Linked DNA regions of Homo sapiens: all the other regions are linked to region 4. Evidence: fine-mapped expression QTL. A gene starts in region 4. Each other region holds a variant in brackets. All regions are shown on one strand. Distances are between the middles of the regions.

Region 1 (2,698 bases), 190 kb before region 4:
GGGGTGGGGGACATTGCCTTGCAGATTTTACATTATAACCCTTGTGGGACACTACGTAATTTTTAACTTGTACATGTATTCCCTCCCCAGGCTCTGCGGATGGCCACGGGATCTGTGTGGCTCCTGAGTCTTTCCAGTTCTCACCCCCAGCTGTTATACATCCTAGCTCCTCCACTGGGCTTCCCTTTAGCTGTCACTGACCCTTCCTCCCGCTAGTAACCCCACTCAGCACTCTCACAGCACCTCACCCATCCCCCATTACCACTCCCCATTATATTGAATTCATACTAGTCCACCTGCTGGAGGAAGCTTATGTGTCAAATGGAAACAAGCAGTGGCAAGCCAACCAGAGCCAGCAAAGGCAAGCACCAATGAGACGCAGTGGGTCATCCAATGGACATCCTAGGAGAGAACCTCCCCCTCTTTCCAGGCCTCAAAGCTGAGGAGATATGAGGGATAGAGCTGCTGCAGCTATTCTGTGACTCTGAGGTTAGGGCTTGAGGTAGGAGCCAATGTAGAAGAGAGTAGGAAAAAGGAAAGAGAGCCATGCCATGTCCTAGTGGTATCACTGTTGCTAACTACTGTTCCCCTTCACTGTGGCCTCTGTGAGATTTCCGGTCCTAATGACAACAGTTTCCCCAAAGCAGTGGTTTTCAGCACTGGGCTACCCATAATAATTACGAGGGATACATCAATGATAGACTGGATAAAGAAAATGTGGTACATATACACCATGGAATACTATACAGCCATAAAAAGGAATGAGATCACATCCTTTGCAGGGACATGGATGAAGCTGGAAGCCATCATCCTCAACAAACTAACACAGGAACAGAAAACCAAACACTGCATGTTCTCACTCATACGTAGGAGCTGAACAATGAGAACACATGGATACAGGGAGGGGAACAACACACACCTGGGCCTGTTGGGGGGTGAGGTGAGGGGAGGGAAAGCATTAGGACAAATGGCTGATGCATGCGGGGCTTAATACCTAGGTGACGGGATGATAAGTGCAGCAAACCACCATGGCACATGTTTACCTATGTAACAAACCTGCACATGTGTCCCGGAACTTAAAGTAAAATAAAATTTTTAAAAAGTCTTCATATTTACAACCAGAAAACAAAAATTACCCAGGATACCTAAAAAACAAAAACAGAACAAAACAAAACAAACAAACAAAAAACACCAACCAGACCTGGTCCCATCCCCCAGAGATTCTGATTCACTTGATCTGGGATGGAGCAGCCTGGAAGGATGGGGAAAAGAGAAGGGAAAGAACAAGAAGAGAAAAACAGCATTTCAGCCAGAGCTTCTCATTTATTTGTATTTAAAAATAAAAATAAAACCATTTTGGACTGAGCCCCTGGGTCAGTCCCCACTGACCACGGTCTGCATGCAGTGCCAGACTGGAAGGCGTGAAGAAAGGAGAGGTTCCCTTTGGCCTTGCAATGGTGCTTCATGAACCCCCAGCACCATC[C/T]GTGTCCTAAAAGAAGAAGCAAACACCAAAGGGCCAGCCAATGGAAAAGTCTGGCCAGGTGAGTGTGTGGGAAGTTTGTAACCTGCAGAGGAGTCCAAGGACCGCCCCCCAAAAAGGGGTCTGCAAAGTCCCTAAACCCAGGTGAGGTGATGCTGGTGGCTCTCCATGCTCAGAGGCCTTGTTCTCCTGTCTGGAAGAGCTCAATTCCCAGCCCAAGGTGGAGGCTGTGCTCAGCTCAGCCCTGACCCAGGCTCACCCAGGCTTGAGGGTGACTGTGGCTCTCACAGCAGGTACTCCTCATGCAGGAAACACTGCTGGAATGGAATTGCTGAGCCAAGCAGGGAGGAAGTCAGAGAGGTCATAAGAGCAAACCAATGCAGATAGCAATGGATTACTATTCATTTTATTATTTTTTAATTTTTCGAGATAGAGTCTTGCTCTGTCATCCAGGCTGGAGTGCAGTGGTGCAATCACAGCACACTGCAGCCTCGACCTCCTGGGCTCAAGCCATCCTCCCACCTCCGCTTCCCAAGTTGCTGGGACTACAGGCACATGCCACCACACCTGGCTAATTTTTTTACTTTATTTTTGCAGAGATGAGATCTCACCATGAATTTTATGATTTTGACAGCTGACAACATTTATGCACAGAAACAACCTTCCAGGTAGGAACTGTATTTTTATTATTGACATTTTGCAGGAAAGGAAACTGAGGCTCAGAGAGGTAGAGTGACTTGCCCAAGGTCACACTGCTTGTCAGTGGCGTTGGTTAGAATGAGGACTGCGGTGCCCTGACCCTGACTCCACGGCTGCAGTCTCCTTTGCTGTTGCATATTCAGCCACTCCCGTTGCCCTGTGTCGCAAACCCCCAAGCAGAGGACAGCTGTGCTCTCTCTGGGCTGCAAGTGATCAGCGTCCCCAGACGCCTTAGGCTCTGGCTGCAAGACCAGGGGCCAGTCACCTCGCCCCACCCCGGCCAGCCCTCCCAGGGACCTGGAGCAGGTCACCCACCTGGCCGTCGTTCATGGAAGGTGGGGCTGTGCAGGAAGCTGCGAGCAGTGGCAACCCTGCCCTCACTTTCATTCTCCTGCAAGCCTCTTGACCCACCCGCCCCTACCCTAAGCCATTTTAGCCACCTCCTAGATGAAGCACACAGTCTCTGGCTTTGGGAAGAAAACCAGACTTTCTGGAACTGGGTGTCAGGCAGATGCCCTG
Region 2 (2,698 bases), 470 kb after region 4:
AATGAGCTGAGATCATGCCACTGCACTCCAGCCTGGGCAACAGAGCAAGACTCCTTCTCGAAAAAAAAAAAAAAAAAGAAATCTCGAAGCATATAAGAATAGAAGAATGAGATTTAACAGGCTCTCTGGAAGCAACTTTGTGCACCTTCTGGAAACAATAGAAGACATGTACCGGTACCTACTTAAACCTCAGAGTGCAATTCACATGGTGGCAGAGATCCCCAAAGCACAACCCTGATTCTTTCTCCATCCTGAAAACACTGCCCCACACCTTCTAAGACAGTAACGGATTTAGATAGAAATGACTGTCCATTTGGGTTTTAACTTAGCACAGCCCTAGCCAGTGAAGAAAAGACAAAAGAACAAGGCAGAAGAATATTGTGGCCTTGGAAGAAATTCCTGACACTGGTCTCTGACCATCATTTTATGACATGTGTACCTGTTTCAATCTTCATCTTCCTCTCAGCCTATTAAGTCATGCAGCGAGCTCCTACCTCTCACTTCCTTCTATCCCCGACCAAGCTTAAATCAGCCTCAGAGGCTGGAGATAAACCAGGCTCAGAGGAGGGGCCTGGTGGTTTCTCAGTCAATTTGCATTCCAAGCTCAAATTTTCATTTCTAAACCTACAATTTCATTTCCAGGCTTTCCCTTGGTTCCAGAGCTGGCTGCTGCTTAGGCGAGAGTGGGAGGGGGGGGCCTCAGTCAGAAATCTCAAGCAACTGGACCAGAGGTAGAATGCCTCAGGCCATTTTTCAATGCCAGTCCCCATTGTTATGGGTCCCACATCGACCTGGTGCTCTTGTTTAACCCCTTTTGCATCTGTAAAAATCATTTTCATTATCCCTTAGTCCCAGTGGAGAAACAGGCAAAGGATAGGTTCAGACTGTTCGCAGAAGAGAATTCCAAATGTCTCTGAACACATGAAAAGATGCTCAACAGGGGCGAAGTGCAGTGGCTCACGCCTGTAATCCCAGCACTTTGGGAGGCCGAGGTGGGCGGATCACGAGGTCAGGAGTTCAAGACCAGTCTGGCCAACATGGTGAAACCCCGTCTCTGGTAAAAATACAAAAATGAGCCAGGAGTGGTGGTGGGTGCCTGTAATCCCAGCTACTTGGGAGGC[C/T]GAGGCAGGAGAATCGCTTGAAACCACAAGGCGGAGGTTACAGTGAGCCGAGATCGCACTGTACTCCAGCCTGGGCAACAAGAGTAAAACTCTGTCTCAAAAAAAAAAAAAAGAAAAAAAAGAAAAGATGCTCAATTACACTCATCATAATAGAAATTCAAATTAAAAGCATAAGGGGAATATATCAGATTGGCAAAGATCAGAACATTAGCTAACACGGTCCGGTAAGATCATGGGGCCTCTTTCCAGCCAGCGCCGAGTGATGGGCATCTCTCAGGACAACTGGCACAAGCGCCGCAAGACTGGCAGCAAGAGAAAGCCCTACGACAAGAAGCGGAAGTATGAGTTGGGGCACCTGGCTGCCAACACCAAGATTGGCCCCCACCACATCCACACAGTCCGTGTGCGGGGAGGTAACAATAAATACGGTGCCCTGAGGCGGGACATGGGGAATTTCTCCTGGGGTTCAGAGTGTTGTACTCGCAAAACAAGGATCACTGATGTTGTCTACGATGCGCCCAATAGCAAGCTGGTCCGTACCAAGACCCTGGTGGAGAACTGCTTCGTGCTCACTGACAGCACACCGTACCACCAGTGGTATGAGTCCCACTATGCGCTGCCCCTGGGCTGCAAGAAGGGAGCCAAACTGACTCCTGAGGAAGAAAAGACTTTAAACAAAAAACGATCTAAAAAAATTCAGAAGAAATACGATGAAAGGGAAAAGAATGCCAAAATCAGCCGTCTCCTGGGGGAGCAGTTCCAGCAGGGCAAGCTTCTTGCATGCGTCGCTTCAAGGCTGGGACAGTGTGGCCAAGCCCATGTCTATGTGCCAGGGGGCAAGGAGATGGAGTTCTATCTTAGGAAAATCAAGGCCCGGAAAGGCAAATAAATCCTCATCCTTTCTGTCTTTGCCCATGGAATAAAGGTGTCTATTGTTCTGTGGCAAAAAAAAAAAAAAAAAAAAAAAAAGTCATGGGGAACGTGCACTCTGAACGCTACTGGTGCGAGGCTGACCTTCCCTGACCTCCTTGGAGACAAATTTGGCAAAATAACTTAAATTTTAAAACGCATTGGCCTGATGATGGAGCACTTCCACTTCCAGGTATTGATAGACCTACTCGTACTTTCTTGCAAAATGACCTGTGCACAAGAAAATACACTGAAGGCCAGGCACGGTGGCTCATGCCTGTAGTCCCAGCACTTTGGGAGGCTGAGGCAGGTGGATCATTTGAGGTCAGGAGTTTGAGACCAGCCTGGCCAATGGTGAAATCCCATCTCTACTAAAAATACAAAAAAATAAGCCAGGCATGGTGGTGCACGCCTGTAATCCCAGCTACTTGGGAGGCTGAGGCAGGAGAATCACTTGAACCCAGGAGGTGGAGGTTGCAGTGAGCCGAGATCATGCCATGCACTCCAGCCTGGGTAACAGAGTGAGACCCTGTCTGTCTGTCTCTGTCTCAATCTCTCTCTCTCTTTCTGTCTCTCTCTCTCTCTCTCTCTCTCTCTATATATATATATACATATATACACACACACACACACACACAATGCAGCATTGTTTGTAATAGCAGAAGATT
Region 3 (2,698 bases), 130 kb after region 4:
CGTGGATATGGGAGGCCAACTGCGTGTTGACTTTATGTTTTACAAAGCACCCTCTAATCATTGAATACTGGGAAACTTCAAGCTCTGGGCCAGGCACTGCACTCAGCATTTGGTGGCTTCATCTCCTGTCATATTCTGGAGCCGTATGAACAAGAATTTTCCCATCTTATAAATAAAAGAGCGAAGACCTGAAGAAGTTATGTATAAGCTGTTGTTTAAGGTTATGCAGCCAGGAAGTGGCTTACTCTCTTTGAATCTTACCCCATTCTTGTGAAACAGGTGGAGGACATATTTTTATCTCCCATTTAACAGACAAGAGACTTGAGGTGGCTGGATGCCGTGGCTCACACCTGTGATTCCAGCACTTTGGGAGGCTGAGGTGGGTGGATCACTTGAGGTCAGGAGTTTGAGACCAGTGGGTGCTTTTCTCTGGCGACGCCCAGTCTGTTTCATTAGCTAACAGATGCTAAGCTCTACCATGGGATAGTTGTAAAACCTTGAATGCAAAGCTTGAATACAATTGAGGAGCAGAGATGGGGTATACAGCAAGCACTCTGTGTATTAAGTGATTGTTGTTCCTCGTCTGTCTTTTGACCTCCCAGTGCACAGCCATGGGTCTGTCACTCTGGTGACCTTTGGCCGTGGGCATTGGGAGGATAGTTTATGTTGACTGCGGATTGCCAGGTACCAAGTATCAGGCAAATTGGCTTCTTTGTACATTCCTCCTTCCGGATAGACCTTGGGCCTCCTCGTCACTGCCCAGGAGATTTGCTGGGAATCTAGGAGGGAGTGGATGATGGCCTGGATGCCTGGGTGGTGCTGCCTCTGCCCCGAGGCAGCAGTCAGTGCCAGGGTGGGGCTGGGTGGGTGCTGCCATCGCCTCGGGGTGGTACCCGAGTCTGGAGTAGGAACAATACTCTATTGTTACGTTAAACCTGAAATAGACGCCTTCAGATGGAGGGGGTGAGTATGAATCTATTACGATCTAATAATGACAAGAGCACTCTGTGTCTTTTCAGATGCTTGACAATCACCTGCTAATCCCGGGGGTCTGGGAGCTGAGCATTTTCAACCTCCACCCCCACCTCTGCTTTGTGGAGTTGGGGAAAAACAGAGACCCAGGAGCTGTGAAATGAGGGAGGCTCAGCTTCTCCACTTACTTTCATGGTGTGAGGAGACGCATGTGTATTTGCCTCTGACCCCTCCTGCAGGGAG[G/C]AAAGCGTACCTGGATCTGGGTGAGAGGCATGTGTGGTGATGAGAACATTTCACAGACCCAAGTTCAAATCTCTGCTCTGCCACTCGAGCATATTTCAGAACCTGTCCTAGTCTCAATTTCTTGGTAAGGTGAGACTATAACCACTTTTAATGGGTCCACAAGGCCTGATCCAACCCAGCAGGTGCTCTTGCGGGTGAGGACCACATCTCGGTTGGTTAGACGTGTCCCCCCAGCCCTCTGCCAGGACCTAGGAGTTGGGGTGAGGGGCTGGGTTGCAGGGAAATGTTGAATCCCAAAAGCAGATTTCCCAGGCAGGCACTGTCCTGACCCAACCTGCCGCCAGCCACCTGTCAAGCTGGACCTCTGGGCTTTTCTCTCCAAATGCTCTTGTTCTCAGGAAAGGGCCAAGACTCACCCCAGGCACAAGATAAGTAGGAATCAGGTGTGAGCCAGTGGTCAGGAGATTTGGGTCTAGACTCTGTGTGGCCAGGGTCATTGCTCAGGTTCGCAGGGCTAAGGAGGAGGGAGGCAGGGGGAGACATATAATTTCTAGAACTTCTGAGGTTCTAGGACAGGGGCCAGCAAACTGTGACCCTTAGGCCAGTTCTATTTTTACAAATAAAGTTCTTTAGTTCTTTTGGAACAGAGCCATGCCTATTTTTTACATATTGCCTATGGCTGTTTTGCTCTCCAATGGCAGAACAGGGTAGTCTTGACAGAGACCATGTGGTCTGCAAAGACAAAGCCTCTTTATAGAAAAAGTCTGGGCAGGGCATGGTGGCTGGCTGGGTGCAGTGGCTCAGGCCTGTAATCCCAGCACTTTGGGAGGCTGAGGTGGGTGGATCATGAGGTCAGGAGATCGAGACCATCCTGGCTAACATGGTGAAACTCTGTCTCTACTAAAAATACAAAAAATTAGCCGGGCGTGGTGGCATGCACCTGTAGTCCCAGCTACTCAGGAGGCTGAGGCAGGAGAATCGCTTGAACCTGGGAGGCGGAGGTTGCAGTGAGCCGAGATCGCACCACCGCACTCCAGCCTGGGCGACAGAGCGAGACTCAGTCTCAAAAAAAAAAAAAAAAAAAAAAAAGTCAACCAGTCCCTCCATCAGATCACAGGCATCTTAAGGGCAGAGAACATATCCTGTTTGTGGGGCCCTAGACTCAACACTGGTCAGGACACAGTTGGCGCTCAATAGATATTAGCTGAATAAATAAGTGGAAAACCCATCAGGCATTGCTGGTGGGAATGTAAACTAGTACAGCCACTATGGAAAACCATGTGGAGGTCCATTAAAGAAGTAAAAGTAGAACTACCATTTGATCCAGCAATCCCACTCCTGGGTATCTACCCAGAGGAAAATAAGTCATTATATGGAAAAGATAGTTGCACACGCATATTTATAGCAGCAAAATCATGGAACCATCCCAAATGCCTGTCAATCAATGAGTAGATAAAGAAACTGAGATATATATATATATGAT
Region 4 (2,641 bases):
CTCCTGGGATCCTCCCAACCTCTCCAGGTTCTCCAGGTGAGGAAGCTGAGGCTTAGAGGGACTCCTGAATGTACTCAAGGCAACACAGCCAGGAAATGATTCAGAAGTCTGTGCCCTTAACCTCTCAGTATCAAATTGCCCTTGAGGGTTAAAATCCCAGACTTTGGGGGTTCAAATGGTCTTACGTTCATATCTCACATACGACCTCGAAGCAATGGCCTAGAATATCTCAAGAGTCTGTGGCCTCACTCTCTGCTTGCTATAAGGCTTCACTCCAGTGACAAAGGATGGACGCCCCATTAAGGGCTCAATGGTGCAGCTGGGGTCACACTGGGGAAAAAGAGGTTTGCTCCAGCAAACTCTAAACTTTGTAGTGGTTCTGGCTTTAAGCCTTGGCTCTGCTGGAGCAACCTGAGCTCACCGCCCCTTCTCAATTTCCCCACCTAAAAAAAAAACAGGGCTGGACCCCACTTTAGGAGAGGCCTCAAAGAGAACCCCCTAAAGCCCTGCTCTCCAATTCGCCACATGCGGCTGAACCCAGATGTGCTGTGAAGGTAACAGACGCCGGATTTGGAACACTCTGTACCAAAAAAGCGAGTAAAATATCTCAGCAATGTTTTTTACTGATTACATGTTGAAATGTTAATATTTTGCACCTGCTAGGCTAAATGTACTGTATTGTTAAAAATTTCAGCTGTTTTTATCTTGTTTAATGTGGCTACTAGAAAATGTTTAATTACCTGTAAGGCTCACATCATATTTCTATTGGACGGTGCTGCCCTAGACGCTGCAGGGAGATAAGTCCTGCTTATGTCCTGCCCAAGGGTGGCTTCCCAAAGCCTCGGGGGTCTCACCGAAAGTGGCTGAGCTTACCAAGGTGCGAGAGCCTGTTTCTCCCCAATCTGCTGCTCAGCCACAGCTCAGGCAGTAGGGAGCAGCCACCTGCGCGGACTGGGCCCCTCCGAGAGGGCAATCTGGAGGGTGACGTTGTGGTCGTGGGCATCTGGCAGCTTCGATTTCCCCTGCGTCCCCTGCCGCGCCCTAAGGGGTGAAGGCCGGTGGTGCGCGTTCCCGGCACAACTCCGAGAGGAGGAAACGGAGACAGGGGGCGCCCACGTGGCCTGGCCAAGGTCACCCGGGTCAGCCCGACTCCACGCGGCCCGGCCCGCCCCCTCCCTGCCCCTAGTCGCGCCGGGCCCGGGCCGTACTTGGCGCTCGGTGATCCAGAAGCGCACGTTGGGCTCAATGAAGGCGGGGACGGCGTCTCTGCGTCCTAGGAGCCGCCCAGGTTGCGTTTCCTCCTCCTGTTCCAGGGACATTTTGCGCTGGTTAGAGTGGCCGCCGCCGCCAGGCCGCGCGTGGAGGAGGAGCCGGGCGGCGAGCCCCGCCCCGGGCCGCGCGCACCCGCAGTTCCCGCCCCAGGCCCGCGCGCCCGACGTCCCGTGTCACAGCGCCTCGGGGCCCTTGCGCGCCCACTGTTCCGGCGAGCGCAGCTCTCCCACGGGCCACGTCCTCCCAACCCTGCTTGCCCTGCTCCGCACCTTTGGGGAGCCGGGCCGTCTCCAGGCCCCAAGGGGTCACTATCGGAACCCGTCATCACAGTACCTAATGCGAAGACCCGGAAAGGTTGTGAGTGAGGCCGTCCGCAACCTCACCCTGCGCTTCTGCCGCGCCCTACCCCTGGTCATTACCCTCGAAAATCCCTCCGATGGCCCACGAATTCCAGTGTGCATGGTGTTGCGCAGTCAGGCCGGCTGCATCATGGTCTCAGCCCAGGGAAAATGTCAAATGCGGTGCCCCTTATTCATGTTACTGAGAATTTCAAGAGAGTAACACCAGAGCATCAAACCAAGTATAGGGCCCTGGGCACAGTGCACTATCCCTCAGCCCAACAGGTTGTTTTTTTTTTTCTTCCAGTGTTGGGGCAAATCCAGTTCCTTTTGTTGACTACCAAATAGGTACCATTTGTAAAGAAAAACCTGCCTTCCCTTCCTCCTCCCACCTGCCCTTCCCCAGCACAGGGCCAGGCGGGGGCTGTGTGCACTTAAATTCACGGAAGCCACAAGTGTGCCTAGGTCGTTCAGGGGGCCTCCGGAGTCCAGGACTGGGGGACCCAGCACATCATCTAGTTGTGTGACCCTCGCCAAGTCAGTATCTCGAAGTCTATTTTCCCATCCGCAAAATGAGGATAACAATTGTACCTATCTCAGGGTTTTGTTTCTGATCAAAGGAGATAAAACATCCCTAACACAGCACTGAGCCCTCAGAAGTGCTCAGTATTGGCCATTAACCTCCAGCGGGCCAATTCCTTCCCTTGCCCTGCGCCTCCAGGAACAGGAAATTGGCTCATGGCGTCCTTCAGGCCTGTATGACTCTGCTTCTGTATTTGCTCAGTTTGCCTAGCTCACTTTTCTTAACCTCCAGGGGTTTATCTCCTCTTCCAGGAAGCCTTCCCTGACCCTCCGAGTTGAGTAAGGTGCCCCCTCCACTTCTACCCTTATGCCGCAGAAATCCATCTAAGCACCAGTGCAGTATGTAGCGTGCTGTTCTATTCTGTTGTCTCTACCCTCCAGGATGTCACAAAGCCAGCCCGCTGGCCTGCTTCCCCACTTTGGACTGCTATGTCGTCTTAACAAAGGAG

Which allele goes with the higher level. Positions count from the first base shown, and alleles are read on the strand shown. Sizes are in standard deviations (SD) of each study's normalised expression. Not every link is listed here.
With allele C in place of T in region 2, the expression in skeletal muscle of the gene that starts at base 1,386 in region 4 is higher (moderate effect, 0.56 SD a copy in GTEx).

Evidence for each region.
Region 1: its variant is fine-mapped to the expression of SFXN4 in ovary (GTEx, PIP 0.99).
Region 2: its variant is fine-mapped to the expression of SFXN4 in skeletal muscle (GTEx, PIP 0.96).
Region 3: its variant is fine-mapped to the expression of SFXN4 in spleen (GTEx, PIP above 0.99).

The regions. Positions count from the first base shown.
Region 1 is chr10:118,975,641-118,978,338 of GRCh38, forward strand. All of the region lies in intron 2 of LINC03036 (long intergenic non-protein coding RNA 3036), which reads right to left. Among named protein-coding and RNA genes, the nearest start is that of LINC03036, 53 kb to the right of the region's middle. The variant C/T (reference allele first, on the strand shown) is at 1,484.
Region 2 is chr10:119,637,073-119,639,770 of GRCh38, forward strand. It overlaps the pseudogene RPS8P4. Among named protein-coding and RNA genes, the nearest start is that of BAG3, 13 kb to the right of the region's middle. RefSeq lists a silencer at 1-55. The variant C/T (reference allele first, on the strand shown) is at 1,122.
Region 3 is chr10:119,292,910-119,295,607 of GRCh38, forward strand. All of the region lies in intron 1 of GRK5 (G protein-coupled receptor kinase 5), which reads left to right. Among named protein-coding and RNA genes, the nearest start is that of GRK5-AS1, 45 kb to the right of the region's middle. The variant G/C (reference allele first, on the strand shown) is at 1,216.
Region 4 is chr10:119,164,329-119,166,969 of GRCh38, forward strand. It overlaps SFXN4 (sideroflexin 4), which reads right to left and starts at 1,386. Exons shown (of 14, transcript NM_213649.2): 1 at 1,209-1,386. The coding sequence starts at 1,319. RefSeq lists silencers at 837-1,023, 1,065-1,534.